Homo sapiens: one gene and its partners. The protein of the gene in region 4 purifies or fractionates together with the protein of the main gene of each other region. This does not show direct contact. Each region holds a gene or a part of one and is shown on either strand. Other genes may lie near its edges.

The links.
Region 1: the proteins of OSGEP (region 4) and NUP43 purify together in Homo sapiens (affinity purification with mass spectrometry; 4 studies listed by BioGRID and IntAct, with this or other methods). This does not show direct contact.
Region 2: the proteins of OSGEP (region 4) and HYKK purify together in Homo sapiens (affinity purification with mass spectrometry; 3 studies listed by BioGRID and IntAct, with this or other methods). This does not show direct contact.
Region 3: the proteins of OSGEP (region 4) and POP7 purify together in Homo sapiens (affinity purification with mass spectrometry; 4 studies listed by BioGRID and IntAct, with this or other methods). This does not show direct contact.

Annotation. Positions count from the first base shown.
Region 1 is NC_000006.12:149,723,362-149,730,493, forward strand, and holds the end of NUP43 (nucleoporin Nup43), read right to left. Parts: exon of another isoform or gene 6,158-7,132; coding exon of another isoform or gene 6,129-6,157; exon of another isoform or gene 5,200-6,128; coding exon of another isoform or gene 5,159-5,199; exon of another isoform or gene 5,119-5,158; intron 5,118-5,118; coding exon of another isoform or gene 5,029-5,117; exon of another isoform or gene 3,838-5,028; coding exon 3,608-3,837; 3' UTR 954-3,607; downstream 1-953. UniProt on the Homo sapiens protein: Component of the Nup107-160 subcomplex of the nuclear pore complex (NPC). The Nup107-160 subcomplex is required for the assembly of a functional NPC.
Region 2 is NC_000015.10:78,502,885-78,511,956, reverse strand, and holds the start of HYKK (hydroxylysine kinase), read right to left. Parts: upstream 4,381-9,072; 5' UTR 4,286-4,380; intron 1-4,285.
Region 3 is NC_000007.14:100,700,821-100,707,986, reverse strand, and holds POP7 (ribonuclease P protein subunit p20), read right to left. Parts: upstream 1,867-7,166; 5' UTR 1,683-1,866; intron 1,167-1,682; 5' UTR 1,157-1,166; coding exon 734-1,156; 3' UTR 501-733; downstream 1-500. UniProt on the Homo sapiens protein: Component of ribonuclease P, a ribonucleoprotein complex that generates mature tRNA molecules by cleaving their 5'-ends. Also a component of the MRP ribonuclease complex, which cleaves pre-rRNA sequences.
Region 4 is NC_000014.9:20,445,289-20,452,617, forward strand, and holds the end of OSGEP (tRNA N6-adenosine threonylcarbamoyltransferase), read right to left. Parts: intron 7,161-7,329; coding exon 7,041-7,160; intron 6,862-7,040; coding exon 6,686-6,861; intron 3,979-6,685; coding exon 3,883-3,978; intron 3,726-3,882; coding exon 3,676-3,725; intron 3,524-3,675; coding exon 3,445-3,523; intron 2,884-3,444; coding exon 2,818-2,883; intron 2,707-2,817; coding exon 2,616-2,706; intron 2,403-2,615; coding exon 2,327-2,402; intron 2,233-2,326; coding exon 2,134-2,232; intron 1,992-2,133; coding exon 1,952-1,991; 3' UTR 1,113-1,951; downstream 1-1,112. UniProt on the Homo sapiens protein: Component of the EKC/KEOPS complex that is required for the formation of a threonylcarbamoyl group on adenosine at position 37 (t(6)A37) in tRNAs that read codons beginning with adenine.

The DNA of each region.
Region 1 (7,132 bases), on a different chromosome or scaffold from region 4:
AGGCCCATATTAAGGATTAAAAACCATTTGTATTAACTTCCGAATATAGGAAGTGTGGCTTAGGAGTATCACATGTGAACACTTCAGAAAGCTGACACAGCATTACAAAGGAATATCATTCCTATTAACAGGATGGCAAGATTTCTGTCATAATCACCAAGGTAGACAATATATGAAAAAGTGTTTATCTTGGAAGTCACACTTAAAAGAAGGCCTCTGGCCGAGCACGGTGGCTCATGCCTATAATCCCAGCACTTTCGGAGGTGGAGGAGGGTGGATCACTTGAGGTCAGGAGTTCAAGACCAGCCTGGCCAACATGGTGAAACCCTGTCTCTACTAAAAATACAAAAAATTAGCTGGGCGCACACCTGTAATCCCTGCTACTCGGGAGGCTGAAACAGGAGAATTGCTTGAACCTGGGAGGCAGAGGTTGCAGTGAGCTGAGATCGTGCCATTGCACTCCTGCCTGGGCGACAGAGCGAGACTTAAAGTCTCAAAAAAAAAAAAAAAGGCCTTTGACAAAGAGCAGTAATTTTTAAAGGGAAAACAAGATTGTGAAAACAAGGTCAATTAACAGTGACTCATTGCTTACTATGGTTCAGATACTGTTAAACACTGTTACACGAAGACATGGGCGCTGTTCTTGATCTTGTGGCCCAGTAGGGGGAGACAGGCTCCTTAACACACTGCTTTGCGCACAATTTAAGTTCTGCACAATGGGCTTTTGAAGCAGAGTGCAATTTAGTCCGGATTGCTGGAGGCCAATAAAAGCTGTCTGGAGAAAATGACACCTAGAAGGAGTCTTGAAGGATAAGAAGGATTTAGCCAAAAATGGAAAGAAAGAGAAGGAAACCTTCACTGGAGAGACTATAATAATCAATTTTGAATATTTGAATATGTGATGAGAGGAATTTTGTGTGTGTGGCTCCCGAGATAAGACAGATAGAAGCAAATTTCAGTTCAGTATATGAAAATTCATTTATTTAGTGAAACCCTGACATTAAAGCGTCCCAACACAAAGCAGATTCGAACATAACAACTGGTGATTGGCTCATCTCACAGGCTCACATCATCAGTGTGTTAACATACAATAGGACTGTACCCTTTTACAGGATTGAGTGTTTTGGATCCCACTCACACACTAAAACCCTGCCATAAAGTTGTATCAATTAGGGCTGTTCAAATGTGAAACTGTATTGGAAAATGGGAAACTTTATCTCCTTATATATGTATATTTTTTGAGATGGCGTTTTGCTCTTTTGCCCAGGCTGGAGTGAAGTGGCACGATCTTGGGTCACTGCAACCTCTGCCTCCCGGGTTTGAGCAATTCTCCTGCCTCAGCCTCCCAAGTAGCTGGGATTATAGATGCCTGCCACCACGCCCGGTTAATTTTTTTTTTGCATTTTTAGTGGAGACGGGGTTTCGCCATGTTGGCCAGGCTGATCTCGAACTCTTGACCTCAGGTGCTTCACCCACCTCGGCCTCCCAAAGTGCTAGCATTACAGGCGTGAGCCACCATGCCTGGCCACCATATGTTTTTAAGTATAGGTTGGATGATAATTTGTTGGGAATACCATAGAAGGGATGATGAAATTTAGGCTGGAGATGATCACCAAGGTACTTTCTATCTCTAAGATCCTGCAACCCTTGAAAGACACTCTATTTGACAGTTTCATGAATAAAGGCAGTGACAATGAACAAATTCATAAATTACGGTGTTACATTACATAAAGCTTAGTTTCTTATTAAAATTGGCAAAACTTGTCAATTGGCATGAAATGTAATGCTGTTAAAATATACTTTCTCTTATGGTTACAAATACTAAGTGGCTCACGCCTGTAATCCCAGCACTTTGGGAGGCCGAGGCGGGCTGATTACCTGTGGTCAGGAGTTCGAGACCAGCCCTGGCCAACATGGTGAAACCCTGTCGTCTCTACTAATACAAAAATCAGCCGGGAGCAGTGGCTCAAGCCTGTAATCCCAGCATTTTGGGAGGCTGAGGCAGGTGGATCATGAGGTCAGTTCAAGACCAGCCTGGCCAACACAGTGAAACCCCATCTCTACTAAAAATACAAAAATTAGCTGGGTGTGGTGGTGAGCACCTGTAATCCCAGCTACTCGGGAGGCTGAGGCAGGAGAATTGCTTGAACCTAAGAGACGGAGGTTGCAGTGAGCTGAGATCATGCCATTTCACTCCAGCCTCAGCAACAAGAGCAAAACTCCATCTCAAAAAATATATATATTTATTAGGACAGAAAAGCAAAACCTTACCATAATTCCATAACTATGATTATTGGAATTACAAAGTAAATGAACACTTCAATTGTCTAATAGCAGTGATTTGTCATTAAGGTCTCAGGTCAATAATACATTTAAAATCTAACAAAGTTTGGAAAGATAGTATCATTAAATTATCTTAAAACACTACATTAGTTCATTATTATCCCTGCAGACAAGGATAAAGATGGTTGGTAACACTATAGGTGGCTAAAACAAAGTAAAAGGATCAAAATGGCAAAATTCTTTACTCTGATCATATCATTTGATTAATCACACTTTTATCTATCACATTTTTAGTTTGGAAATAGTTTGCTTATCAATATAGAATTCTACTTTATTGCACAATGTCCAGTTTGGCAACTTTCAGCTATGCTGTGAAGCTAAACAAAAGCAAAGTTGGGTCTAACAAGCTGAAAGAGTTCTGCTCAAAAACCTATTCTGAAAAAGGAACTTGTCAAAACATTTTCACCTTAAAAAAATTTCAGGCCGGGTGCAGTGGCTCACACCTGTAATCACAGCACTTTGGGAGGTCGAGGCGGGTGGATCATGAGGTCAAGAGATCGAGACCATCCTGGCCAACATGGTGAAACTCTGTCTCTACTAAAATTACAAAAATTAGCTGGGCGTGGTGGCGCACACCTGTAGTTCCAGCTACTCAGGAGACTGAGGCAGGAGAATTGCTTGAACCTGGGAGGTGGAGGTTGCAGTGAGCCGAGATTGCACCACCGCACTCCAGCAGAGCAAGACTCTGCCTCAAAAAAAAAAAAAAAAAAAAATTGAACACAGCTACACATCTTTGTCATTTTTGCTCTACTCAATTCTTTCTGAAAAAGTTTATTATTATTAAGGAAATAAAGTGTGGAAGGATCATAGGAAATACTTGCAATAAAAAGAATAATCATTAACATTGGCAACTGCCACTAGGAAGGTGTATATGCCACATACTACTGATAAAAATTGTAGGAACCCATTGGTAGTTCCCATAACCACCATTGATGTGTTAATTCCCACAACATCAAAAATAAAGAATTAGTTCCACAAGCTGTCTGTCAATAATACTCTGAAGGCAACCTATTCATCAGCACCAGAATCCCACTGATTTTCTTCCACATGTTCACAATCTTTTGCCATCAGTCATCTATCGGATTCTACAACTGTTTGGGAGTGTCAGGCTAACAAAAGTCAAAACTGGGCATTGACATTAATGGTAGTTTACTGATGTTTCCCCTGCAAATCTCGTATTTTCTGATACTAAAATTTTGCACAGAAGTTGGATTTCAAAAGGCTAATTGCATGTTCTATCTGAAATCTTATAATTATAGTACTTCTACGAAAAAAGATGTCTAGTAACATAAATTGCTTCTGCATCGGTTCCACAAACAAGACAAGGACCTAAAACATCCAAAGTGTTCACAGACAGAGACCTACTGGGAAGTAAGCTTGTGATTTCAATTCGGTCTTTTGCAGGATCAGTGCTGAGCCAGGAGCTAATGACAGACTGGTGAACATTAGCTTGGTTACTAATGCTATGAGACAAAAAAGTACTGCTTCTTCCTCCTGGGAGAAAAAAAGAAAAGGAAGAAATCTTTCAAGATGATTTTTATATTAGTAAACATTCAAACTTCTACTGATATTTAGAAAGGTGATGATATCAATGTGTTTAATTCTCAGAATAATAGGCTAATAATTCCATTATTATACATCACCACTTTGGACCAAAGGCTTATTCAGTGATATTAAATATTCAAATTTCCATGGGATAATATGGATACCAAACTCGAAGTCTTCAGGAAAAGCAGGTGATTTCAACTGACTTTCTGTTCATCTTTTAATGGAAAGTCTCAGAAAGGTAGCAAAACGGCCAGCATACAAGTTGAATAAGGAAAGAAAAAAAAGAAACCAAAAATGTAGGTAATACATGGAAATATAAACTCTTGGGTAATAACAAAATAAAATGATCATGAGAAAGAATTTCTAGACATATTTCTAGATGAACATTTCTAGAAATATATTTCTAAATATATATTTGTTACTATATTTCTTAAAATATAATCGCCTTACCTCAAATCTTTCATTCTTATGCTTTTTAGATAAATGTTCTTACAAGCAGATTAGAACACTACTAGATTATAAGGTTTTATCTCTAACAGCGCACTGTACTTACTATAGAATAAAGTGAGGCAGAGGCAGTATATTTCAATTTTAGTCATTATTCGCAACTTACTTTCCTCTCAACTTGCTGTCATATCAAATAAGTACAAATTTAATTCACTCAACAAATGACTGAGTACCTACTATGTGCCAGGCTCTGTGCTAAGTGCTCTGTGCCAAGTCCCTATGTCTTGAAGCTTAAAGATTAGTACATTTAAAATCTTGCTGATCCTTTAAAATATGGCTGAACTTCCTTCTCTAAGAAAACTTTGAAGACAACCTCTACTTCATGTTTTTCTCTTTCCTTGAACCCTCAGCACTTGTATGTACCATTAATTTACTACTTTATAACAATTCTTATATCCTAATTGAACTATCCATGCCTCTGTCCATGACTAAATATGTCTTAAGAGCAGGATGCATATTTTATATGTTTTACTTTTTCACAGTGTCTAATACTGTGCCTTGCAATAGTAGACACAGAATAAAGTTTTATTTCCAGTCTAACCAAGGTTCCTTAAAAGTAAACTTGCAAGTTCAAGACTGTGCGGTTAGGGGAGGAAGGAAGTAAAAACGAAGTACATACTTAGTTAATCCTTAGATGAAACTGTTTGTTTCTCTGTAGATGAAGTTATAGCATGGACATGCATGCATGCTCCACACATGCTCTCCGCTCCAGAATTTTTCTGAAGAAGTTTTAGAATTTTTTTCCCCTTAGTTTTTCTGTTTATCTTTTACTGCCCCTACATTTTACATTGCTCTTGGACGCTGTAAAGATTAACACATTATTCAAGCCACTGTGATAAGACTCCTTCCTCATCTCCCTGTTTTCCACTTTTCTCCTCCCCCTCCCATAAGTCTAAAGTCCTTATCATGGGCTACAAAGTCCCAGGGCTCCTCAGCCACCAGTCCTTATCTCCCACCACTGTACCCTGCTGCCTGAGCTCCAACCGTGGTGTCCTTGCAGTTCTCTGCCTGTCTCAGGCCCTCAGCATTTGCTGTTTCCTCTGCCTGGAATGCTTTCATGTCACTTATGCCTTCACTTCTCTTAAGTCTCTGCTCAAATGTTCCTTCTGCCAAGTGGCCTCTTCTGACTCTCACTAGAGTAGCTCCCCTCACCCCTGTCTTTATTCTTTATCCTCCTACTCTGCTGTATTCTTCTTCATGGTAATTAGCAGTGTATTTGGCCATGTTATTTTCCTTTTTCTTTTTTTTTGAGATGGAGTCTTGCTCTGTTGCCCAGGCTGGAGTGCAGTGGCGTGACCTTGGCTCACTGCAACCTCCAACTCCCGGGTTCAAGCAATTCTCCTGCCTCAGCCTCCAGAGTAGCTGGGATTACAGGCACCCACCACCACGTTCAGCTAATTTTTGTATTTTTAGTAGACACAGGGTTTCACCATGTTGGACCAGGCTGGTCTTGAACTCCTGGCCTCAGGTCATCTGCCCACCTCGGCCTCCCAAATTGCTGGGATTACAGGTGTGAGCCACCGCGCCCGGCCTCCTTTTCCACTTTGCTGTGCTCCACTATATACTGTAGGAGGTAGAAGTTGGTAAACTCCACTTTCCAGGCTGCTTTGCCATCTGCCATCCAGATGGGCCTTGCCAATAGCAGGTATTAATGGTGGGTGACTGGAAGGCGGAAGGGAGAAGCAGCTCCTTCCTGCTCCAGGTTTCTGGCAACAACACTGGTGGTAGTTTCAGCCTGGTTGAGGGAGCGCCTTTTCTCCTAATTCAGAACAAACTTTTACAGCATTTTCAACAGTCAAGTAGCAGGGGTACTAACAATTACTATTTCTGGGTTTTCCCTTTTCTTCCTATTTGTTCTCCCAGCACCCCTCCTATTACCTTTTGTTTTCCCAGCCCTTCTAACACATGTGAGACCAATTCCTTCTACATCTAAGGTAGTTTCTGACATTCTAATTGGACTCTTACTGATACATTATCTATTTTTTTAACTATTAGAATATTTGCTCTATGCGTTTCGACATTTCGTTCTGCTCACTGTTACACGTCCTAACACCTAGAAGAATGCCTACCACATGGTAGGCATTCAGTAAATATTTCTGAATAAATGAATAAGCAAAAGAACTTTGGAGCCACAGACAAACCCTCAAAAACAGGAAACTTGGAAAATGCAAAAACACATAAACCCCGATTACAAGTGCATGGTCTTTGGCTGACCATAACCTACAACTGACTGTAATGAGGAAAGCACGCCCTTTTTTTTTTTTTTTGAGACGGAGTTTCGCTTTTGCTATCCAGGCTGGAGTGCAATGGTGCAATCTCGGCTCGCTGAAACCTCTGTCTCCTGGGTAAAAGCAATTCTCCTGCCTCAGCCTCCTGAATAGCTAGGATTACAGGCATGAGCCACCACACCCGGCTAATTTTGTATTTTTAGTAGAGACGGGGTTTCTCCATGTTGGTCAGGCTGGTCTCGAACTCCCAAACTCAGGTGATCCACCTGCCTTGGCCTCCCAAAGTGCTGGGATTACAGGCATGAGCCACCACACCCGGCCTGAGATCAGGCCATTTAACCAGTACCCTCAGTTACATCAAATATCAACTTTTTTCTTGCCATTCACACAAACTTGGCAATGCAATATGAAAGATTTGCCACTGTCTATGCTATGGCATGAGGGTCCAGGTTAATGGCACTCACAAAGGAGAACCTTGGCTGTCTCAAGTGAGCCAGCTTACAGCA
Region 2 (9,072 bases), on a different chromosome or scaffold from region 4:
GTGACAGAAGCTGAGAGGGAGAGAAATTACTACAGCCTAAGGGAAGACATTCTTGAGAAGATAGATTTGAATTTTTATCTTTAAAGATAGAGATGGGGGTCTCACTTTGTTGCCCAGGTTGGTCTCAAACTCCTGGTCTCAAGCGATCCTCCCACTTACGCCTCCCAAAGTGCTGGGATTACAGGTGTGAGCCACTGGACCTGGCCTGAATTGATTTTTTTTTTTTTATTTTTTTCAGACAGGGTCTTGCTCTGTCGCCCAGGCTGGAGTGCAATAGCATGACTACAACTCACTGCAGCCTCAACCACCAGGCTCAATGATCCTGAACCTCAGCCTCCTAGGTGGCTGGGACTACAGAAGCCACCATATCAGGCTAATTTTTTGTATTTTTTGCAGAGACAGGCTTTCACCATGTTGGCCAGGCTGGTCTTGAATTTCTGGGCTTAAGTGATCTGCCTGCCTCTGCTTTGTAATCCCAAAGTGCTGGGATTACAGGCATGAGCCACCACGCTGGGCCTTGAATTTTTAAGTATGATTTGGATACATGGGCGGGGGAGGAGACTGTTTTCTTTCTCTTGGTAATTCCACCCTCTGCTACCCACACCTGGTATATTTTCTGAGCATCCAGCTACATATGAAAGACAATGTAGGTCTTCTGAACATGCTTCAGGAACCAAATATTTAAGGTCGTTAGAATCTCATGCTGTTTTCCCAAAATAGTTTTATTCTAATCCTTCTTTCATACTAAGTTGTAAATAATTGATAACATCGTGAGGGTGAGCTGCATTTTAGGGTATGTTTTGATTGCTGTTCAGGGGATACAGTACTATATAAAAATAATCTTATGGGCTGGGCACAGTGGCTCATACCTGTAATCCCAGCCAGCACTTTGGGAAGCCAAGGTGGGAGAACACTCAAGGCTAGGAGTTCGAGACTAGTCTGGGCAACATAATGAGACCCGCTTCTCTATTTAAAAAAAAAAAAAAAAAAAAAAAAAAGAATCTCATGAAGAGTTAGCTTTTGTGGAAAGTGGAAGATGTATTGCTTCTGACAGGGAAGGGGCATGAGAGAACTTTCTGAGAGGCAAGTGTTCTACATCTTGATTAGGCTTTGGCGACATGGCTTACATTTGTCAAAACTTAACTTAAAACCTAAGTAAACTAGTAAGATCTGTGAATATCACTGAATGTAAAATTTACCTCTAAAAAAGAAAGAGCGCTTCTGAGAAATTGGCTAGGACAGAGGAGGTGGATCTTAGGACTTTCTTGGAACTCTAAAAATCAGACCATATGCCTGTTAATGCCTAATTTATTTGGCTGTATCATAGCAAAAACCCACCTAACTCCAGTGAGGGAAAGGGGATAACATTCAGGGAGATATACCAGAAATCTCCTATATGACCCCCTCCCTGCCTCAGTCCTAGGACTATGGCCTGATGACTCAAGTTAAAATAAGGGTAGGTAAAGACAGTGGTTCACGCCTGTAATCCCACCACTTTGGGAGGCTGAGGTGGGTGGATCACCTGAGGTCAGGAGTTTGAGACCAGCCTGGCCAACATGGCGAAACCCCATCTCTACTAAAAATAAAAATAAAAATAAAAAAAAAATTAGCCGGGCATGGTGGCCGGCGCCTATAATTCCAGCTACTCAGGAGGCTGCGGCAGGAGAATCACTGGAACCCAGAGGGGTGGAGGTTGCAGTGAGATGAGACTGCGTCACTTCACTCCAACCTGGGCGAAAGACCAAAATTCCATCAAAAAGAAAGAAAAGTAAAGAAAAGAAAGAAAAGAGAGAAGAGAGAGCAAGAGAAAGAAGAAAGAAAGAAAGAAAGAAAAGAAAGAAGAAAGAGAGAGAGAGAAAGAAAGAAAAGAAAGAAAGAAAAAAAAAGAGAAGAGAAAATAAGGGAGAGGTAACCCTCAAACGCTAACCACCCCCTAGCCCCTGCCATGGCCTTCCCTGATCCTCCTACCCAAAGTGATTGCTCCAGCCTCTTAACTTGCATAGCTTGTGCCACTGATCGGTTTCCATCACCTGTTACTGCAAGTTAATGCCTTCTTGACAATCATGTTTCCTGTTTACTTTCTAACCAGGCATTTGCTTTCAGAAGCAAGTTAAGCCGTTCAGATTTTGTTCACTGAAGGTACTGTGACAAAGCCTAAATGGAGTTTCAAAACAATCTTTGCACTTGAAACTTCTGGGAACCAACATATCCTGTCACACTGTATTTAGGCTTAAAACTTTACAAGGAATTTTAACATTCTTTCTGGAGATATGTAAACTGGTATAAGGTAAGTATTCAAAATGCAATATGGACTGAAGCATTAACTCCAAGATGAAATCCTGGAGTCATTTTCAACTCCCAAAGCGTTAACGATGTCAGAACAATTCTGAATTTGAAATGAATGATAAGTTCTTAAAGTTGTAAGGAACCTTAGAGGCAACTGGTGAAGGCCAATCTCCTTTCTATTCCAGATGTTCCCATACAATCTTTGACTTGTTAAGCTCCTCTTAGGAGAGCGCTGTTTTCCATAGCCATGTAAAGCAAGGTTGTTAGCTCTGGCCATCCAAATAGACTGATGTAATAAAAGGCTGTGCTGGGAGAAATAGGACATATTTTAGTCCCAGTTCTGCTACCTAACCTCTGAAACTCTGGACTAGTCATGTCTCCTCTAAAACAGAGTTGGATTAGATTATTACTAAAAGTCTCCTCTAGCTCTAGTATTCCATGCCACTAAAGTTCTTTAAGTTCGCCTTTTTTCTTTATATAAGCGCTCCATATCATAGAACTAATGGCACAGATCAAGTCAACTCTTGAGAGTAAATAAAAACAAAGAAAAAAATATGTTTATCAGACATGTCTGTCTTAACCAAATGTCTCCTTTGTATGGAGGGGAATTTTTTTTTTTTTGTTTTTGAGACAAGGTCTCTGTCACCCAGTCTGGAGTACAGTGGCACAATCACTGCTTACTGCAGCTTCCAACTCCTGGGCTCAAGGGATCCTCCCACCTGAGCTTCCCAAATAGCTGGGACTGCAGGCAGGTGCCACCATGCCTGGCCTTTTTTTTTTTTTTTTTTTTGGAGAGAGAGGGTCCCACTATGTTGCCCAGGCTGGTCTCGAACTTCTGGGCTCAAGCAATCCTCCTACCTTGGTCTCCCAAAGTGCTGGGATTACAGGTGCAAGCCATCATGGCTGTCTTTTTGATTTTATTATTTTTATTTTTTTAGAGACAGTGTCTCGCTATGTTGCCCACTCACACATTTTTAAAAATTATTAACTTTTTTTCCTACTTCATTGAAAGGGAGAGGAGGAATTCAGGTACTATAGGCTGTTGGTCTATATATCCGGCCAACAGTATTTAGCTCCTGAAAAAGCCCGCAGGAAGCAAGTGTGATTTCCAACTCCAAGATCTGCGTCAGAATCTCACCACCTTTGTCCTGCAGCCGGGAGGGGGCTGGAACTTAAGCTCTGTACTTTGTGCAAAGTATACCAGACAAGAAACAGGAGTCATTCTTGATTCTTTCCTGTCCCTCACTCCCAACGTGTAACAAAGTCTAGTAAATTCTACCTTAGCATGTCTTCCAACTCTACCTTTCTTCTCCTACATTCCCTTTTGCTGCGTCCTTCCAAGGGATTATACCCAGTCAATCTCTGTATTCTCAGCCCCTAGGCTAGTCCCTTATTTAATATTAAATGGTGAACCAAGGGTGACCTTCATTCCACAGACTCACGGGGCAGTTCAACCCCAAGGGGATCATGAAACAGAAAGGTGGGGAATCTAGCATCTGCAGTTTTTCAAAGACAACAGTGCATTACTAGGTGCTTTTAAGGGTCTTCCTGGTGGGTGAAGGGGAAAAAGTGGTGGGTGAGCGGGCTGCAGAGGGGCTGCTGAACCAAGAGGCAGGAAAAGAGAGGAGGAGGGCGCATGAGTAAGTGAGGTTCAGCGGAGCTCAGAGACTGCTCCCAGTAGACACCGGCCAGGCGCCGGCACAGCCCTCGGCCAGCGACCCCACACAGACCCGGGAGGGCTGGCCTCGACAGCTTCTCGGGTGCCACGCTTTCATTCTGGGGGCCCAGCTCAGCCCTCCTAGGTTACAGGTGAGGTCCGGGAAGAAGGGTGACTTGCCCATCACGCACGCAGCGAGCTGAGGATAGCGCGGGCTGGAGGAGCCTGAGGCATAGGACTCCCGGCTCCACACTTGCAGCGAGCCTCCCTGCCCTCGGGGGCGACCCCGACTCCCGCAGCGGGGACGCAGGGCTCGTCTCTGCTTCCCCCTCCTTGGCTCACCGGCAGCGACCCGACGTCCTGGGGTGGATCCCGCTTTCCCGCAGACAGGTAGTGCGGCCTCGGCCGCGCACCGGCGCTAGGAGGTAGAGCAGGGGCCGCAGCGCCCGCGCCCCTCCTCCAAGCCCCGCGAGTCCTGACTTCTGATTGGCTCCTCCCGGTCCCTCGCCGCCCAGTCAGCGCAGACTACTGGATTTTTTTCCCGGCCCCGCCTAGGAGGCTGCGAACAGAAATTCAGAGATTCGGCTTCTGTTGACTTTCTGCAACTCCGCCCAGCCTTCTCACAGTGAGTATCCCAGTCAGAATCCGGCTACCTTTTCATGAACCGGACTCCTTATTCCTGATTGGCTCTCCGGGTTGCCGCCCCACCCCGAGTGGGCAGGCTTTCGGCTCTTGAGTGGCACCTCCGAGTTTCGCAGGGTCCACGTTGTCGTGGCGGTAACACTGACAGCTCCTCACCCGCATCCACGTTTTTGTTTCCTAGCCTTCATTCCTTCTGTTGGAGGCACGTATCCTGGAAGTGATACGCTTAGAAAGCGTGGCCCCAGAGAGACTCGCAATCCCAGCCCCAGGAACTGTAAGGGTCCTGATTGGAAGGCCTGAGTAAGGCCTGGCTGCGTTCCGCAGGAGGATGCTGGAATGTTAGAACCCGAACAGTTTAGGCAGGGCGCAGATGGCTCACGCCTGTAATCCCAGAAATTTGGGAGACCGAGGCGGGAGGATCACCTGAGGTCAGGAGTTCGAGACCAGCCTGGCCAACATGGTGAAACCCCTCTCTACTAAAAATACAAAAATTAGACTCAGGGGGTATGTCTGCAGCTGCAGAAAGATGTATGGGAACAGACACACAACTCTCCCTCCGAGATAAGCACAACAAAGAGACACAGAAGCAGTCCAAGCCTCTGATAAACTCTCCCACTCCGAATCCTTAAAAACTTACTTAGTCTGTAAGAGAGTGTGCCTCTGACCTAACTTGGCCAGACGCCCCTCTCAGGTTTTCTCTAAAATAAACCTCTTATGACCACCAAGCCACTTTTCGTGTTTCTTTCCTCTTTCTTTAATTCTTACACCGAGTAGTTGGGATTACAGGGGCCCACCACCACGCCTTTATCTAGGTAGTGGAATCAGTGGGCTCTCTTTCTGCAGGAAAGTCCGCAGAGACCCCATGATTTTCAGAAAGCTGCACGAGATTCATGGAGTAACAGCCAGGTTAGTTGGATGGTCTTAACTGTTAAGGGCATGAGGCGCTGATAAACAGCTTGATGCCCTTCTCCAGCCAAGCAGGACTTCTCCGATAAGTCAGAGCCCTCTATCTACTGTAGGCTACTGGAAGAGAGTCCTGGGTACTGGTCCACTCATGCCTGCAAATTGGTTTCTTATTTTGTTTTTGCCAATGCACATCCACCCTTTGTTTTCTGTCAGGATATAACACACTCGGATTATCTATAGTCACCCTGATTAACTTGGATGATTCCCAGACCCCTATCAACCACCTACTGAGGGAAGCTTCTTCTCCTGCTTTAGATATGGTTCTTACCTGCTTCACTTCTAATCTCCAAAAGGCAGGGCTGTTTTTCACAACCCCAGGGGAACATAATTAATATCTCATTCCTTTAGATTGTCAAAGAGTGATTTTGACTTGGATTTTTCTGTAACCAGAATTGGAATCCTATTGGCTCCCTTAGGCCCCTCTGCATGCTTTTTGCCTTGAGTGGCTTCTGAGTTATTTCCACCTGTCATTATTCCAGCTCTACTGGTCTTTCTCTACTTCTCTTGGGATGAGGGAATGGGAATTAAGATTGAATCTGGAAATTGTGAGAATTGGAGGCAGGGCTATTGGATCCACAACTGCCCTCTTTGGTATGTGCATTTCCACTCCCTGAATTCTTCTGAAATATAGTATTTGGTAGGGTGTGGTGGCTCACGCCTGTAATCCGAGCATTTGGGGAGGCCGATGGAGGTGGCTTACTTGAGTTCAGGAGTTTGAGACCCGCCTGGATAACATGGTGAAACCCCATCTCTACTAAAAAGACAAAAATTAGCCGTGCGTGGTGGCTAGCGCCTGTAATCCCAGCTCCTAGGAGGCTGAGGTAGGAGAATCGCTTGAACCTGGGAGATGGAGTTTGCAGTGAGCCGAGATCGCACCACTGCACTCCAGCCTGCATGACAGAGCAATACTGTCTCAAAAAAGAAAAAAAAAAATGTACTTTGTAAATTGCCTTTTTCACTTTAAGTGACCATTTCCTTGTTTTAAAGAATATCCTCGGCCGGGCGCGGTGGCTCACGCCTGTAATCCCAGCACTTTGGGAGGCCGAGGCAGGCGGATCACAAGGTCAGGAGATCGAGACCATCCTGGCTAACACGGTGAAACCCCGTCTGTACTAAGAATACAAAAAAATTAGCCGGGCATGGTGGCGGGCACCTAGAGTCCCAGCTACTCGGGAGGCTGAAGCAGAATGGTGTGAACCCAGGAGGCGGAGCTTACAGTGAGCCGAGATCGCGCCATTGCACTCCATCCTGGGCGACGGAGCGAGACTCCGTCTCAAAAAAAAAAAAAAATAATAATATCCTCATACATAAATCTTTCGTGCACTTTATGTGTTTAAAACTGCTCAGCATCATATTACTAGGTATAAGAGAATAAACACTTTTAAGGCCTTTTTATTTTTTGAGACAGGGTCTCACTCTGTCACTCGGGAGTGCAGTGGCGTGATCTCAGCCCACTGCAACCTCCGCCTCCTGGGGTCAAGGGATCCACCCACCTCAGCCTCCCGAGTAGCTGGGACTACAGGTGCGCATCACCACGTCCGGCTAATTTTTTGTAGAGACGGGTTTCGCCATGTTTCCCAGGCTGGTCTTGAACTCCTGGGTTAAGCAATCCTCCCACCTCAGCCTGGCAAAATGTTGGGATTAGGGGCGTGAGCCACTGCACCCGGTCTAAGCCTCTTAATACATGTTGTCAAATCATGTTTTCCTCTCAATAATACCAACATTGGATTTTAAACATTTACAACATTTACAACATTTTAAAAAGTTCCACCAATGTAAGACAAGATGCGTTGTCATTTTTTTTTTTTTTCTTGAGACAGAGTCTTGCTCTGTCGCCCAGCCTGGAGTACAACAGTGCGGTCTCAGCTCACTGCAACCACCGCCTCCTGGGTTCAAGCGATTCTCCCGCCTCAGCCTCCCGAGTAGCTGGGACTACAGGCACATGCCACCATACCCAGCTAATTTTTGTATTTTTAGTAGACACGGGGTTTCACTATGTTGGCCAGGCTGGTCTCGAACTGACCTCGTGATCCGCCCGCCTTGGCATCCCAAAGTGCTGGGATTACAGGTGTGAGCCACCGTGTCCGGCCAGATATGTCATTTTAAGCGGGGCATGGTGTTGCATGTCTATAGTCCCAGCTACTCCAGGAGGCTTGGGCAGGAAAAGTGCTTGAGCCCAGGAGTTCGAGGTCAGCCTGGGCCACATAGTGAGACCCGTTTCTAGGGGGGAAAAATGTCATGTCATTGTATTAACGTTTCTTCAGTTGGCTACTGGAGCACTTTTAAGTAGTTGCTCTCAAACATAGCTCAGTGGCTGGTCATGGTGGCTCATGCCTGTAATCCCAGCAGTCTGGGAGGCTGAGGTGGGAGGACTGATTGAGGCCAGGCGTTCAAGACCAGCCTGGGCAACACAGTGAGACCCCCACCTCTATTTTTATAATTTTTTTAAAAAAGAGCTCAGCGATAAAAAAAAAAAAAAAACAAAACTGGAGTGAAACAAAATGAACAATTTGCAGTGAGATTATGGACATGATTTTACATTATAAAACAATGTCTCATAAAACAATATCCCAGCAGTTTTATGATACTTCCTTTATATATTACAAGTTGTTTAAAATGCTCAAAATTGGCTTTAGTTTCCACGGTGGGCTACAGCTAAAGCAGCACTTAGAGGAAAATTTAAATATTTACATTTACATTGGAGGAAAAGTGTTACAAAGCTGGGGGAAAGGAGGAAATTAAATAAGTAACAGAAAGGAAATACTTCAGAGCAGAAACCAATAAAACAAAACAAACCGGGCACGGTGGCTCATGCCTGTAATCCCAGCACTTTGGGAGGCCCCGGTGGGCGGATCACAAGGTCAGGAGTTTGAGACCACCCTGGCCAACATGGTGAAACCCCGTCTCTACTAAAAATACAAAACAAATTAGCCAGACATGGTGGCGCATGCCTGTAATCACAGCTACTCGGGAGGCTGAGGCAGGAGAATCACTTGAACCCGGGAGGTGGAGGTTGCAGTGAGCCGAGATCGCACCATTGCACTCCAGCCTGGGCAACAGAGCCAGATTCCGTCTCAAAAAGAAAAAAAAAAAAAAAAAATCCAAAACCAAAACCAAACAAAAAACCAGAAAACAATGGAGAAAATAATGTAAAAAATTGGCTCTTTAAAAAATTAACTCAATTTCTAACCCTTTAGAAAGACTAATCAAGGAAAAAAAAGAAAACACAAATTACCAATATTGGTAATAAAAAGGGACCCTGCCACAGATCATATAGATATTGATAGGGAAATACTGAAAAAAATGCTTAAAATTCAGTACTAACACCACATAAACACAAAATTCACAGTGACAACACACTTATTTAAAAGACAGGGTCTTGCTGTCACCCAGGCTGGAGTGCAGTGGCATAAATCATAGCTCACTGCAGCCTCAACCTAGGCTCAAGCGATCCTCCTGCCTCAGCCTCCCAACTAGCTGGGACTACAGGTGCACAGCACCACACCAAACTAATTATTATT
Region 3 (7,166 bases), on a different chromosome or scaffold from region 4:
TGGGGCTGGGCACGGTGGCTCACGCCTGTAATCCTAGCACTTTGGGAGGCCGAGATGGGTGGATCACAAGGTCAGGAGATCGAGAACATCCCTGCTAACACGCTGAAACCCTGTCTCTACTAAAAATACAAAAAAATTAGCCAGGGTGTGGTGGCAGGCACCTGTAGTCCCAGCTACTCAGGAGGCTGAGGCAGGAGAATGGCGTGAACTCAGGAGGTGGAGCTTGCAGTGAGCCAAGATTGCACCACTGCACTCCAGCCTGGGTGACAGAGTGAGACTCTGTCTCAAAAAACAAACAAACAAACAAACATTGGGATGACTGGGTTTCTGCACTGTACTGTTTTGTTACACTGCTCATAGCATAATCTATGCTCTCTATAGAGGCAAGAAACACTTGGGTTCCCCTTTCACCTAGATACCTGTAGCGTTTCCTACCATCCCTATTCAGGCACACACAGAATTTACACAGGAAAGAATCAGTGGCAGTGGGATGGCAGGACACTAGTGCAACAGGATTTTTTATTTATATGGCAATAGTTACAGACCGCATACACACACTCAGGAAGGCCCACTAACTGGGCCCACCAAGAGACAATTACCCCCACCCTCAATGCAGAGTCCTTTGGGCTTCCAGGGAACAGGCCTTTTCTTACATGGCTCTGGTCCGAGGTCCAGTACTCAGCATGCGAAGAGCCATATCACGGAGGGGATAAGTGGAGGAGTGTCTTTTCAATTACTTGGGTGTGACCCTGAAGACTCGGATGTGGATGGCTGAGTTGTTGCGGATCCGAGTCAGTGGCTCCCGTGTGTCGGTCTCTGGCTCCAGCTCATCAACAAGCTCCACGGTGGAGGTATTGGCAGCCACCTGCAAGGACCCGAAGCTGCCCGCCTGCAGCTGCAGCGCGATGTTGATGGCGCGGTTGATGGCCAGGCCCAAGCCGTGAATGTAGATCTCAGAGCACGCGTTCTGACCCCGGGCCCCTCCGTCCAGCAGCTTCTGGCAGCGGGCCAGCTGGGCCTTAAAGTCCGTCTTCATGTTGACATAAATGTCATTGGGTCTCCGGGGCAGGCGGCTGGGAAGCCTTTTCCTAAGGGTGTATTCCACTGGATCCAGTTCAGCCTCCACAGCACCGCGGGGCTCTCGGTTTTCTGCCATGCTGTGTGCCCTGGCGTGGGAAAGGGACGCGATCAGAGGGCTCAGAGGGACCTCGAAGCCTTTCCTACCCCTTTTCCTGTACAAAGGGTGCACCTGGCCGGGCAGTGGCTCACGCCTGTAACCTCAGCACTTTGGAAGGTCGAGGCGGGAGGATCACTGGAGCCCGGGTGTTTGAGATCAGCCTGGGCAACATAGCAAGACCCTGTCTTAAGAAAAATTTTTTTAATTACCCGGGCCGAGGGGGGAGGATCGCTTGAGATCGGGAGTTCGAGGCTACAGTGAGCCGTGATCGCGCCCGCCACTGCACTCTAGCTTGGGAAACAGAGCAAGCCTCTGTCTCAAACAAAAACAAAAACAAAAATAAAGGGTGCACCCGAGAAGGGACACACTCGATGTCCCTGTTTCCTTCCGGCCCCTCGTCCTCTCCCACTCACCTCCAGATCCCGCGTCTCCCCACCCCCCGTTCCGATTCATTCATCGCGTCGCCCTCAAACTCGCGCCCCTCCGCCGCCCCTCCCGTGCTTACTCTCTTCGTTCCACAGGGCCCTCCAGGCGCGCGAGGCCCGCTCCCCGCCAGGCCACTCAAGGGTTCGCCGGCCAGCCCAAGTAACCGCGACCCCAGGTCCCAGAGAAAGAAGGATGTGGGTGCAAGCAGCCAGCCAGCTCGTGGGCGCCCTGCCCGCGCCGGGGTCCTGAACGGGCTGCGGAGTGCGCACGCGCGCCCGTACCCCGCGAGCTATGAATCGCCTTCCCGGCTTCCGTTCGCCCCGCCCCTTCCCTGAGCGCAAGGGCGACTGCGCGAGGCGTTTGAGAAACGCGAGACTTCCGGGCGTGACGGGATCTACACGTGTACGCCTCGGGAACTGGCGGGCGGCCGAGGGCGGGAACCAGGTCCGAGCCGGGGAGGAGCTAGAAAGGGCCGGGTCGGCGTCTCTAGGCCTGGCGGAGTTCCCGGCCGGCGGAGGGGTAGCGTAGGGAAGACACCTGGAGGGGAGGCTGTTCTAGGGGCAGGGTTCTTCCCCATGGGAGCAGGGAAGGGGCCGAGTTCAGGAGACCGCGGTCGCCAAGGGGCCTGAACTCCGCGTCCGTCGCAGCTCCTCTGGTCAGAAGAGGCCTGGGCAGGGCTGGCAGAACTGACCCCCTAGTCTAATGTCCCTGTGGCCCGAGGACCGAGGGGGAACTGAGGGACATAGCCGGTCCCCACCTCGCTGGAGGACAGCGTCCCGGGACTCCCCTGCAGTTCACGGGAAGCTGTCCGCCTCCTGTCTGTGCTGGGGACCCACGCTGTGAGCCCTAAGCCCAGGCTTCACGGGTCCCCAAGGAACGCTGACCCACCCACGCCCCTCAACCATCTCCCACCAGCTCTGCAGCAGGCGACCCCGGATCAGGGACTTGCCGCCCCCTGGCGGGCAAGGTGGGGAGGACGCGCGCCGGATTCGTGGCTCTCAGGCCAGTGGAGTGGGGGCTCTGCCCAGATGGGCATAGTTTCTGCAGAGTTCCCTTCTGAAATGAGTAGGACCTGCTGCACTGGGGACCTTGAACTACTCTGTTTGCCCAGCATTCAAATGGGGATGTTCACAACAGCTCCACCATATTGCACATGCATTTTATTGAATGGCTAGCTGTATAGCTTCTGTCTACAAACTTGCATGCATTTATTTTTGAGACAGGGTCTCTGTGGCCCAGGCTGGACTGCAGTGGTGTGATCTCAGCTCACTACAACCTCTGCCTACCGGGTTCAAACGATTCTTGTGCCTCAGCCTCTTGAGTAGCTGGAATTACAGGCGCACGCCACCGCACCCGGCCAGTTTATTTCATTTTTTTGAGACAGGGCCTTACTCTGTCACCCAGGCTGGAGTGCAGTGGCGTTAACACGGCTCACTGCAGCCCTGAACTCCTGGGCTCAAGCAATTCTCCCGCCCCAGCCACCTGAACAGCTTGGACTACGGGCATGCACTAGCATATAAAGTTGTATTTTAGAAGTTAATCCTTGGTATTGAAATTTTCGATATGTTGGCCGGGCGCGGTGGCTCACGCCTGTAATCCCAGCACTTTGGGAGGCTGAGACGAGCGGATCACGAGGTCAGGAGATCGAGACCATCCTGGCTAACACGGTGAAACCCCGCCTCTACTAAAAATACAAAAAATTAGCCGGGCATGGTGGCAGGCGCCTGTAGTCCCAGCTACTCGGGAGGCTGAGGCAGGAGAATGGCGTGAACCCACGAGGCGGAGCTTGCAGAGAGCCAAGATCGCGCCACTGCACTCCAGCCTGGGGGACAGAGCCAGACTCCATCTCAAAAAAAAAAAAAAAGAAATTTTCGAAATGTTCACATAATTGTTGGGAGCGATTCATTCCTCCTCACATGATGTGCCTCCTCTCTCCCATATCCTGTTAATTGTAGCAGTTGCGGGCATTTGCGATGACAGGATATACGGATGGTGCCACACTTGACCTTGAGTACTGGAATGCTCTGAGGTCAAGCATATGCCACAGTGCTTGAGACTGTGGGCATCACCTGTAGTGTCTTTTTCTCCAACTCCTGTCTCCTTGGTCCTAGGGAGGTCTGGCTCTAATTGCTAGTTTCCAGAGATTCATTCCTTTTTTTTTTTTTGAGACGGAGTCTCGCTCCGTTGCCCAGGCTGGAGTGCAGAGGCACGATCTCAGCTTACCGCAACCTCTGCCTCTGAGGTTAAAGCGATTCTCCTGCCTCAGCCTCCTGAGTAGCTGGGATTACAGGTGTGCACCACCACGCCCGGCTAATTTTTGTATTTTCAGTAGAGATGGGGTTTCACCATGTTGGCCAGGCTGGTCTCAAACTCCTGATCTCAAGTGATCCTCCTACCTTGGCCTCCTAAAGTGCTGGGATGACAGGCTTGAGCTATTGTGCCCAGCCTCATTTTTAAGCTTTGGATCACAGGAAGAAGCAACAAGAAACTATACCCAACTCAAAACATTTTAGGAGAATCATAAAATTGGTCCATTTAGAAGGTAGAGTTGGGTCCATTAAGTTATTGTTGCAAGAGGTTGCATATTCAATGATCAGTTATATAAAATAATGTTCTCGTTAGTATGCTTTTCATAATCTGTTTTATCATACATGTAACATTCAAACTGACAAATACACTGACTTGGGAATAAAGGATATGAAAACACTGGTTTAAAAAAAATGGGGATGCTAATTCCTTTCTTGCAGTTGAGTTGTGAAACCCAAGGTAATGTTGTAAACTGTAAACCTACACAGGTGAGTTGGCATATTTATGTCTCCCAGGCCCTTCTCAGTTCCCTAGGATGGAGTCTGACCCCATTTGATCAAAGGTTGAAGAGAGTTCAGATTCTAGAGAAATTTGCTCCCAGCACCCCATTTCAATCCCATAGTTCTTTCCTTTACTTCAGATTCTTTCATTAACCACAAGATTGGGATTGAATTGGAAGATCCAACATATTATAGTAAAGATACCAATTCTCTTCAAATTAATCTATAGGGGCCAAGCATGGTGGCTCACGCCTTTAATCCCAGCACTTTGGAGGCCAAGGTGGGCAGATCACTTGAGGTCAGGATTTCAAGACCAGCCTGGCCAACATGGTGAAACCCCGTCTCTGCTAAAAATACAAAATTAGCCGGGTGTGGTGGCACGTGCCTGGTACTAATCCCAGCTACTCAGGAGACTGAGGCAGGAGAATAGGTGGAACCCAGGAGGCAGAGGTTGCAGTGAGCTAAGATCACACCACTGCATTCCAGCCTAGGCAACAGAGCGAACTCCGTCTCAAACAACAACAACAAAAACCCAAATTGATCTATAGGCGTAATGCAATTCCTACAAAAATCCCAGCAGTTTTTTTGTATTAAATATAGATGTTTATTCTAAACTTTATATGGAAAGGCAAAAGAAGTAGAATAGTTAAAACCACTTTGAAAAAGTTGTTGGAATCACACTACCTGATTTTAAGACTTACTATATAAATAAAGTTATCAAGAAAGTATGGTTTCCCCAGTGGGATAGACACAAAAATCAATAAGATGGAATTGAGAGCTCAGAAATAGATTCACACAAGTGCAGCCAACTATCTCTCTTTAAAAAATAATTTTTTGTTTGTTTATAAGACAGTGTCTCACTTTGTCACCCAGGCTTGGAGTGCAGTGGCACAATCTTGGCTCACTGCAGCCTCAACCTCATGGGCTCAAGTCATCTTCCCGCCTCAGCCTCCCAAGTAGTTGGGACTATCAGCACGCGCCACCATACCCGGCTAATTTTGTTTTATTTTTTGTAGAGACGAGGTCTTACTACGTTGACCAGGCTGATCTCGAACTCCTAGACTCAAGCAATCCTCCTGCCTCAGCTCCCTCAAAGTGCTGAGATTACAGGCGTGAGCCACTGCCAAACAACTTGTTTTTGACAAAGGTATAAAAGCGTTTCAATGGGGAAAGGATGATCCTTTCAAGTGGTGGTGAAACAATTGGACAAATAGGCAAAGAAATGAGCCTCAGCCCTATGCAAAAAGTTAATACAAAATGGATAGTAGATTTAGGAAAAAACTTCATGGTGTAGGGTCAGGTGAAGAGTTTTGTTTTTTTGTTTGTTTGTTTTTTTGAGATGGAGTCTCACTCTGTCGCCCAAGCTGGAGTGCAGTGGCGCGATCTCGGCTCACTTCAACCTCTGCCTCCCGGGTTTAAGAGATTCTCCTGCCTTAGCCTCCTGAGTAGCTGGGATTACAGGCACATGCCACCATGCCCAGCTAAAGGCGAAGAGTTCTTAGACATGACTCCAAAAGCACAATCCATAAAAGAAAAACAATTGGGCTGGGCACGGTGGCTTATGCCTGTAATCCCAGCACTTTGGGAAGCTGAGGTGGGTGGATCACCTGAGGTTAGGAGTTCAAGACCAGCCTGGCCAACATGGTGAAACCCCGTCTCTACTAAAAATACAAAAAATTAGCCGGGCGTGGTGGCATGCGCCTGTTATCCCAGCTACTCAGGAGGCTGAGGCAGGAGAATCGCTTGAATCCGGGAGGCGGAGGTTGCAGTGAGCTGAGATTGCGCCATTGCACTCCAGCTTGGGCACCAAGAGTAAAACTCCGTCTCAAAAAAAAAAAATGATAAATTGGACTTCATCAAAATGTTTAAACATTTGCTGTGTGAAAGATCACATTAATAAGATGAAAAGAGTAGCCACAGACTGGAAGAAAATATTTGCAAATCATATATCCAACAAAGGACTTGTTTCCAGCATATATAAAGCACTCTCTAAGCTCGAGAGGTAGAAACCGAACAACCCAATTAGAAAATGGGCAAATCCAGCCTGGGCAACATGGTGAGATCCTGTCTCTACAAAAAATTTAAAAATTAGCCAGGCCTGGTGGTCTGTGCCTACAGTCCTAGCTACTCAGGAGGCTGGGGTAGGAGGATTGCTTGAGCCCAGGAGGACAGCACTGCAATGAACTGTGATCATACCACTGCACTCCAGCCTGGGTGACAAAGTGAGGGTCTGAGAAAGAAAGAGAGAGGAAGGAAAGGAAGAAAAAGGGAAGGAAGGAAGGAAGAGAGGAGAGAAAGAGAGAAAGAAAAAACAGAAAAAAGGAAGGAAGGAGGGAGGGAAGGAAGGAAGCAAGCAAGCAAGCAAGCGGTGGCTCTTGCCTGTAATCCCAGCACTTTGGGAAGCTGAGGTGGGTGGATCACCTGAAGTTGGGAGTTTGAGACCAGCCTGGCCAACACGGTGAAACCCCGTCTCCACTAAAAATACAAAAATTAGCTGGGCGTGGTGGCGGGCGCCTGTTAATCCCATCTACTCGGGAAGCTGAGACTTGAAAATCGCTTAAACTTGGAAGGCAGAGGTTGCAGTGAGCCAGGATCACACTATTGTACTCCAGCCTGGGCGACAGAGCAAGACTGTCTCAAAAAAAAAAAAAAAAGAAAAGAAAAAGAAAATGGGCAAATCTTAAACGGACATTTCAGTGAAAGAGAGTATAAGAATGGTAAATAAGCACATCATAAGATGTTCAATATCACTAGCC
Region 4 (7,329 bases):
TATTTTCTTACTGAAATAGGAACTAAGGTAAGAGTCAGAATAGGGGGAGATGTTAAGAGATTTGAGGGGTCAGAAGGTATGAAACAGTCACTAGAAAAGAGGGCAAGTGAAAGGACTAGAGAGATGGCATATTTCTGGGTGGCATAAAGGACCCATTTTAGTGTCATGGTCGTAAGTTTGAAGTAAGATCAGTCAGCATGGCTATTTTTTACTAGCCCTTTCAGCTGCATGGGTCTAAAGTAGGTGATGAGTTGAATATGACAAAAGCAAAAGAGGGGAAGGGAAATGAGGTGGATTATGGGAATTTAGCTGAAGGAGGGAAATAAAAATACGTGGGGGATAAAATCTGCAGAAAGGAAGTATGATCAATGGACCGTAGGTCCTGGTGAAGGGATGAACTGTTGGATTTAGCATACTAAAGAAAATGAACTGGAAGAACAGGAGGTGGTGGTAGTCGAGAGTGGGACGTCTGAAACTGAGATGTGGAGGATCTGCAGCTCCAGAACATGACCAAGGAAATAAGTGGCTGAAGCGGGTGTTAGTATGATCTACCTGAATACTGAAATAAGATTTATGACAAACGTGGTGTTCGTATGGTAGTTTCTTTCAAAGCAGAAGGGTACTAGGGATGAGGGATAATGGTCTGGAAACAGTATGAGGACACGTGCACCACCTCCAGGCCCAGTGGGACACTGGGTGTGGAAGGGAAAATGCCACCACTACTGAGGTGGTAGGAGAAGCAGAGTCCTCATAAGAAACCAAGTCTGAAGAGCATAAATGTGAAGGGAACGTTCAGAGAAGAGGTTGAGGACACAGAGAATTTGACAAATGACTGGCCATCAGTTCCAGAGGGCACAGTGGAAGAGCTTCTAGAGTTGGAAAAGGTAGGTAGATGGAGACAAAACAGAGTGGAGATACATGGTTATTAAGTGTAAAAGATGAGATGACTCAGTAGTTTAGGACTAATTGTGATGATTGATATCAACATCAATAAGATTAAGGGTATGAGATTCGTTCTGTTGTTTGTGGTACGGAGGGATGTGCATCTGCGGGCATTCCTCAAGCCTGCCGATGGATGTGCATGTAGGAGAAAGTATACGGAGTAGAGGCAGTTTTAGAGTTACAAGTTAGACCAATCTCCAGGCTGTTTGTTTGTTTGTTTTTAAGAGACAAGGTTTTGTTCTGTCACTCAGGCTGGAATGCAGTGGCTCAATCACAGCTCACTGCAACCTCAAACTCCTGGGCTCAAGCTATCTTCCCGCCTCAGCCTCCCTTGGAGCTGGGACTACAGATGTGCGCCACCATGCCCAGATAATTTTTACATTTTTCAAATAGATGGTGTCTTGCTATTTGCCCAGGCTGGGCTCAAACTCCTGGGCTCAAGGGATCCTCCTGACTTGGCCTCCCACAGCACTGGGATAACAGGTGTGAGCCTCCAGGCTATTTTGAGAGAAGTCTTGCACACCTACTTCAAAGAATTTAAATGAGAGAATGAATGTAAAGCAGTTAGCACGGGACCCGATGCTATAATAATAGTTATGATACTACTATTGTTGCCAGGCACAATGGCATCCTTACTCAGGAGGCTGAGGTGGTAAGACTGCTTGAGCCCAGTTCGAGACCAGCCTGGGAAACACAGCAAGATTCCGTTTCTTAAAAAAAAAAAAAAAGATACCTCATTCTTGGTTCCACAGCAGCAAGCTCCAACAAGAATTTATCCAGCACCAAATCTACATTGGTCCTGAACAACACAATCCAATCACCAACATACAAAACCAAAAAACCAAAAATATTTTATTGCTGAGTCATCCTGGGGTTCCATAAAGGACCCCAAGCCTTGCTTGGAGTCTATAGCTTTGCTAGGACTCCCATGACATCAGGATAGAGATTGAGGCACGGGGTCCTTTGGGTTCCGATTAAGGAACTATCTACTCTGATTCTGTTGATCTTATTAGTCCCTCCAGGTCACCTCTACTTCATCTGTCCGATACCTGTGGAAAAACAGAAGAAACATGGTGGAGAGCGAGCCCTTAACATCCTTCATTCTTCTCTGCCCTCATGTTCCTGGACTCTTCCCTGCTGTTTTTGTCTATGTCCCAATAATCTACCCTCACCAAGAGGTGAATCACTCACCTCTGTGTAACCCCAGAATCACTGAGTGGGGTCCTGTGTCCAGCCCGAAACATCTCCCAGCCAGCCTGGGCTATCATCGCTCCATTGTCAATACAGAATCTGGGATGCAAGAGAGATGAAAATTGGGATCTAAGGGTGGAAAATCACTATAACAGGAGAAGTAAAAAAGAAACCAAAGGGAAAGTGTCTTTACCTCTCATCTGTAGCAAAAAGCCGGGCTCCACGTTCCTGGCACATTGTTGCCATCATCTCCTGTAGCCTCACATTACCTACAAAGAGGCAGGGAACAGGATTAGCTTAGTTTTAGCCATCTCTTCATGGTCCAGCAGAACACGTCATGTGCACTCACTTAGAACAATGACATAGGGGATTAGGGGCAAGGATTGGGAAGCCTACTCCAAACGCTTAATGATTTAGAGTACCAGGAGGAAGACGCATAGTGTTAAGAATAGGAAAGAGGAACACTTTTCAATAATACATACACCCCACTCCTCCCACAATGAGGGCCTCCTGGGAGCCACAATGTGCCATGGCTCGCTCTGTGATCTCTACCAGCATTGCAAACACAGTTTCCTGTCAGGGACAGATAAGGAGAAAATATTAGAGGGGCATCCCAGATTAGTTCTGCTCTACAATATAAAACCTTCAGCCCCAACTTTCTGTCCCAGTTTTTTACTGCATTACCTGCAGGGAGAAACACAGATCCTCAGGAGTACACTCGCCTGTGGCCAGCATCCGATGGGCTACATCCTACAATTAAAGGGAAAAACAAAAGAATCAACAAATCATGGTTTTGGGATTACACGAGAGCAAAAATTAATGCATTCGGAGGGTCATCATGTTTCACCACAATTCAAGTTACCAGCACATCCTGTACCACATTCCCTTCACTGGCATCATGGCATAGAATGAGCAGCTTTCATTTAAGATGCAATCATTACTTTTTGAATACTTGTCCTGACATCTCTCACCCCTTACTTATCCTGCTTAATTTTTCACCTGTACTCATCATCATCTGGCACTTCATTATTTTCCTCTTTCTTATCTCCCCCGCCCCCCATTTAGAATCTAAGCTCCATGTAGACAGGGATTTTTGTTTTGCTCCATGCTGCATCTCTACTATCTAGAACAGCATGTGGCACACAGAGATATTCAATGAATACCTTCTAAATGAATTTACCCAGCACATGATATGGACCAGTACTGTGCTACATGAATATACTGAGCTATACGAAATATAATCGTAAGTAAAACAGATATGCTTCATTTAAAAAGCATGAAAGTGCCCGTCTCATCACCTCTCACACTCACCTCAATGAAAGACAGGATCCCTGAGAATGAGACGTCCATCCCCTTTACAGTGTATGGCAGCTCAACTAGCTTCTTGCCTCTATGTGGGAATAAGCGTACGAGGCACTAAGCCTACAGTCAGCTGGCTTCTCACCCTCCAAAGCCCGTCCCAAATTTTGTTAATATATACCGTATATGGGGAAATCCCTGAAGCCCCAGCAGCCAGCCTGCTTCCACCTTATGTCCCCTTACCGCTTTGCCATCTGTTCAATGTTGTATCCTGGACTTGGGTCGTTAGAAATCTAGCAGAAGAAAAAAATAAGGAAGGAGGGAATGGAAGAGGATGAAATCAGATATGCAGGAAGCATAAGAAGCTCATTTACTATTTCCTCCCTCCACCTCCATGGCTTCCCAAAAATTCACCCACATTTTATGTTCTCTGCAGCCCCACTGGCTTACCTTCAGCACTCGAGCAAAACGATCCAGACAATTACCCACTGCAATATCGATGGTTTCCCCAAAGATACGGTAACGATGTTCCGAGTATGCAATCACCTAAGGGTGATGAGGAAGTCCATGAAACCCCAAGTCTGTAAAGAGGATTATTTGGCTTTGGGAGAAAAACATAGCAGAGGATCAACATGACCACCAGGGCTTCCAATAAGAAGTGGAAGAAAGGTGTTTCCCAAATGGTGAATGGGTAGTTTTTACAGCTCTGATTTGAGAAGAAATCTGTATACCCTGAGGATTCCAGGAACAGATTCCTAGACAGTGTAGGTTCAGGCAGAAATAAATTGTCATTTCAAATACATTGGTTTTCCGGCTTAGAAGTTCCTAATATATCCCTTAAATGCAGTCTTGATAGTAGGTAACCGGCTTTTCTGCTTGGAGGCAGAGAACATGAATCCTTCTAAATTATGACACAGTGGCAGTGGTAATTTTTTTTTGAGACAGGGTCTCGCTCTGTCTCCCAGGCTGGAGTGGAGTGGTGTGATCATAGCTCACTGTAGCCTCCACCTCCTAGGCTCAAAGGATCCTCCCACCTCAGCTTCCTGAGTAGCTGGGCTACCATGTGTGGCTTATTTTTATATTTTTGTAGAGATGGGGGTCTCACTATGTTGCCCAGCCTGGTCTCAAACTCCTGGTCTCAAGCAATCTACCTGCCTCAGCCTCTCAAAGTGCTGGGATTATAGGTGTGAACCACCGTATGCAGCTGGGCAGTGGTATTTAGAACCAAGAAGCAGAGCTGAAGAACTCAAAAATCTCATATGGAGTCAGACTAATGGCCCAGCCAAGTCAGCAATGGCAATTCACTTAAGGCCATTTTTCTTTTCTTTTTTTTTTTTTTCTGAGACAGAGTCTTGTTCTGTCGCCTAGGCTGGAGTGCAATGGCGTGATCTCAGCTCACTGCAACCTCTGCCTCCCAGGTTCAAGCAATTCTCCTGCCTCAGCCTCCCAAGCAGCTGGAATTACAGGCACCCACCACCACTTTTTTGTATTAAGGCCGTTCTTCATATGTGACCAACTTTTAGCACAGAGAATATCTGTCCCTTACTGACACATATTCTGCAGACTTATAACACCGAGGGCTTCCTACGAACCTTAAGAAGTCCCTTTCCCTTCCCAGTGCTGTTAGGGATTTCTTCCCTTTCTGATACAGATCTTAATCTGCTGTCAAAAAGACAGTAACAAAGGCGAAGGAAAAATCCTGCCTTTCTGCTTCTGCTATCCACTCCTCTCCACCTAATCACCCTCCCTGTTTCTTACACCTAAGCAAACATTAAAAGAGAAGAGGAAGACAAAACCGTCACTGCTCCTTTCATCAACTCTTGTAGCCTCCATTATACTTTCCACAACCCAAGTCTCTGACCTTGTATGTCATCCTTCAGGCCTCAACCAACTACTTGCCCTCTACCTGCTGAAGTTTCTGCATCATTTTCATGGGAAACATGTGCCTCATCTTCTCGACACAACCCTTTCATGAGCTGGGGACAATGCTGAACTATTTCTAATGATAATCAAGTGTTCTGTTGGAAAAGAATCCAATCCCAACCTTAAAAAGGTCATATAAGGTAACCCAAACAACTTTAGCTTCACCTATAAATTTAAAATACCTTCTGGCCGGGCATGGTGGCTCACGCCTGTAATCCCAGCACTTAGGGAGGCCGAGGCAGGTGGATCACCTGAGGTCAGGAGTTCAAGACCAGCCTGACCAACAGGGTGAAATCCCGTCTCTACTAAAAACACAAAAAATTAGCCAGGTATGGTGGCGGGTGCCTGTAATCCCAGCTACTCGGGAGTAGAGAAGAATAGTTTGGACCCGGGAGGCAGAGGTTGCAATGAGCCAAGGTTGCATCATTGCACTCCAACCTGGACAATAAGAGCGAAACTCCATCTCAAATAAATAAATAAATAAATAAGATAAAATAAAATACCTTCTATAATTTACAAAGTATTTTTTAAAGTTATTTATATTTCTAAACTCTTAGAATAACAAAGTCTACATAATCATTCCCAGTAATATAAAAACAAAACATGTACTTGCCCCAAAATAATAAATCAGGTAGTGTCCTTTAGTTGTTTTTTTTTGTTTTTTGTTTGTTTGTTTGTTTGAGACGGAGTTTTGCTCTTGTTGCCCAGGCTGGAATGCAATGGTGCGATCTCGGTTCACCGCAACTTCCGCCTCCTGGGTTCAAGTGATTCTCCTGCCCAGCCTCCGGAGTTGCTAGGATTACAGGCACCTGCCACCACATCAAATTAATTTTTGTTATTTTTAGTACAGATGGGGTTTTGCCACGTTGGCCAGGCTGGGCTCAAACTCCTGACCTCAGATGATCCACCCGCCTCGACCTCCCAAAGTGCTGGAATTACAGGCATGAGTTGCCATACCCAGCAACTGTTAGTTTCAATTGCTAAGATTTATAGAAAAAATAAGCTTCAAAATAATGCAAGAGCTTTCAGATATTCATTATTTTGAAGATTTCAATCCTTTTCAATCCCATTCATTCCTTTCCTGAAGTAGAAATTCCTAATCTTTATAATCAGATATAAAGTCTGATAATGATAAGCCATCTAATGTTCTGATCATGCTGCCAAAATTTGCAATGTTACAAACTCTGTTGGGGGTTTTCTGGTCTACAGTATTTTAGGTTCAGATAAGTCCATCTTTGTTCCTGACATTCCCATGACTCAGATAGAACAAAGAAAATACTGGTTCAGTGCCTCAGAAATTGAGATGGAGTGGGTAGAGCCCTCTAAATACCTGCGTATTTCCTCCACTCACATACAACACGGTTGGGCTGGTGGCTCCAGTGATGAGGCGGCCCATCTCAATGTGGCCTATACAGTGGTTCACACCCACCAATGGCTTATTCCACAGTTGGGCCACAGTACGGGCCACAACAGCCACAGAAACCAGTGGGGCACCCATGCCAGGGCCTAGGGAGATAGAAATGGAAGTTATAATCCTAGAGATTGGAAAAAAACAATAGTGGGGGACATAAGGGATGTGAGGTGGGGTAGGGGTAGTGATGGTGGCAGAGGTAAGGTGTTGGCTATTTTGACCTAGCCAGGTTGCAGGTATATTCCTCCATCGTTGACCACTCTCCCAGCCATACCCTTGGTGTATGCAATGCAGTCGATATCCTGGGAGGTTAATCCAGACTCTGTTAGTGCCTCCTGCAGCAGGTCTAGGATAACAGCTCGGTGATGCCTGGCTGTATCACCTGGAAGGAATCCTAGAAAATGAACATAGGTCAGAGATCACAGGGATTTTCTGTAGCAAAGGTAGGTAGGAAGTTAAAGAAAGCAACAGGAGTTTTAGTGATGTAGTAAGAGTCCTTTCACTTTCCCCAAGCATCCTATCTTCCACATTTTCACATCTACTCTTTCCGGCTTCTATATAGG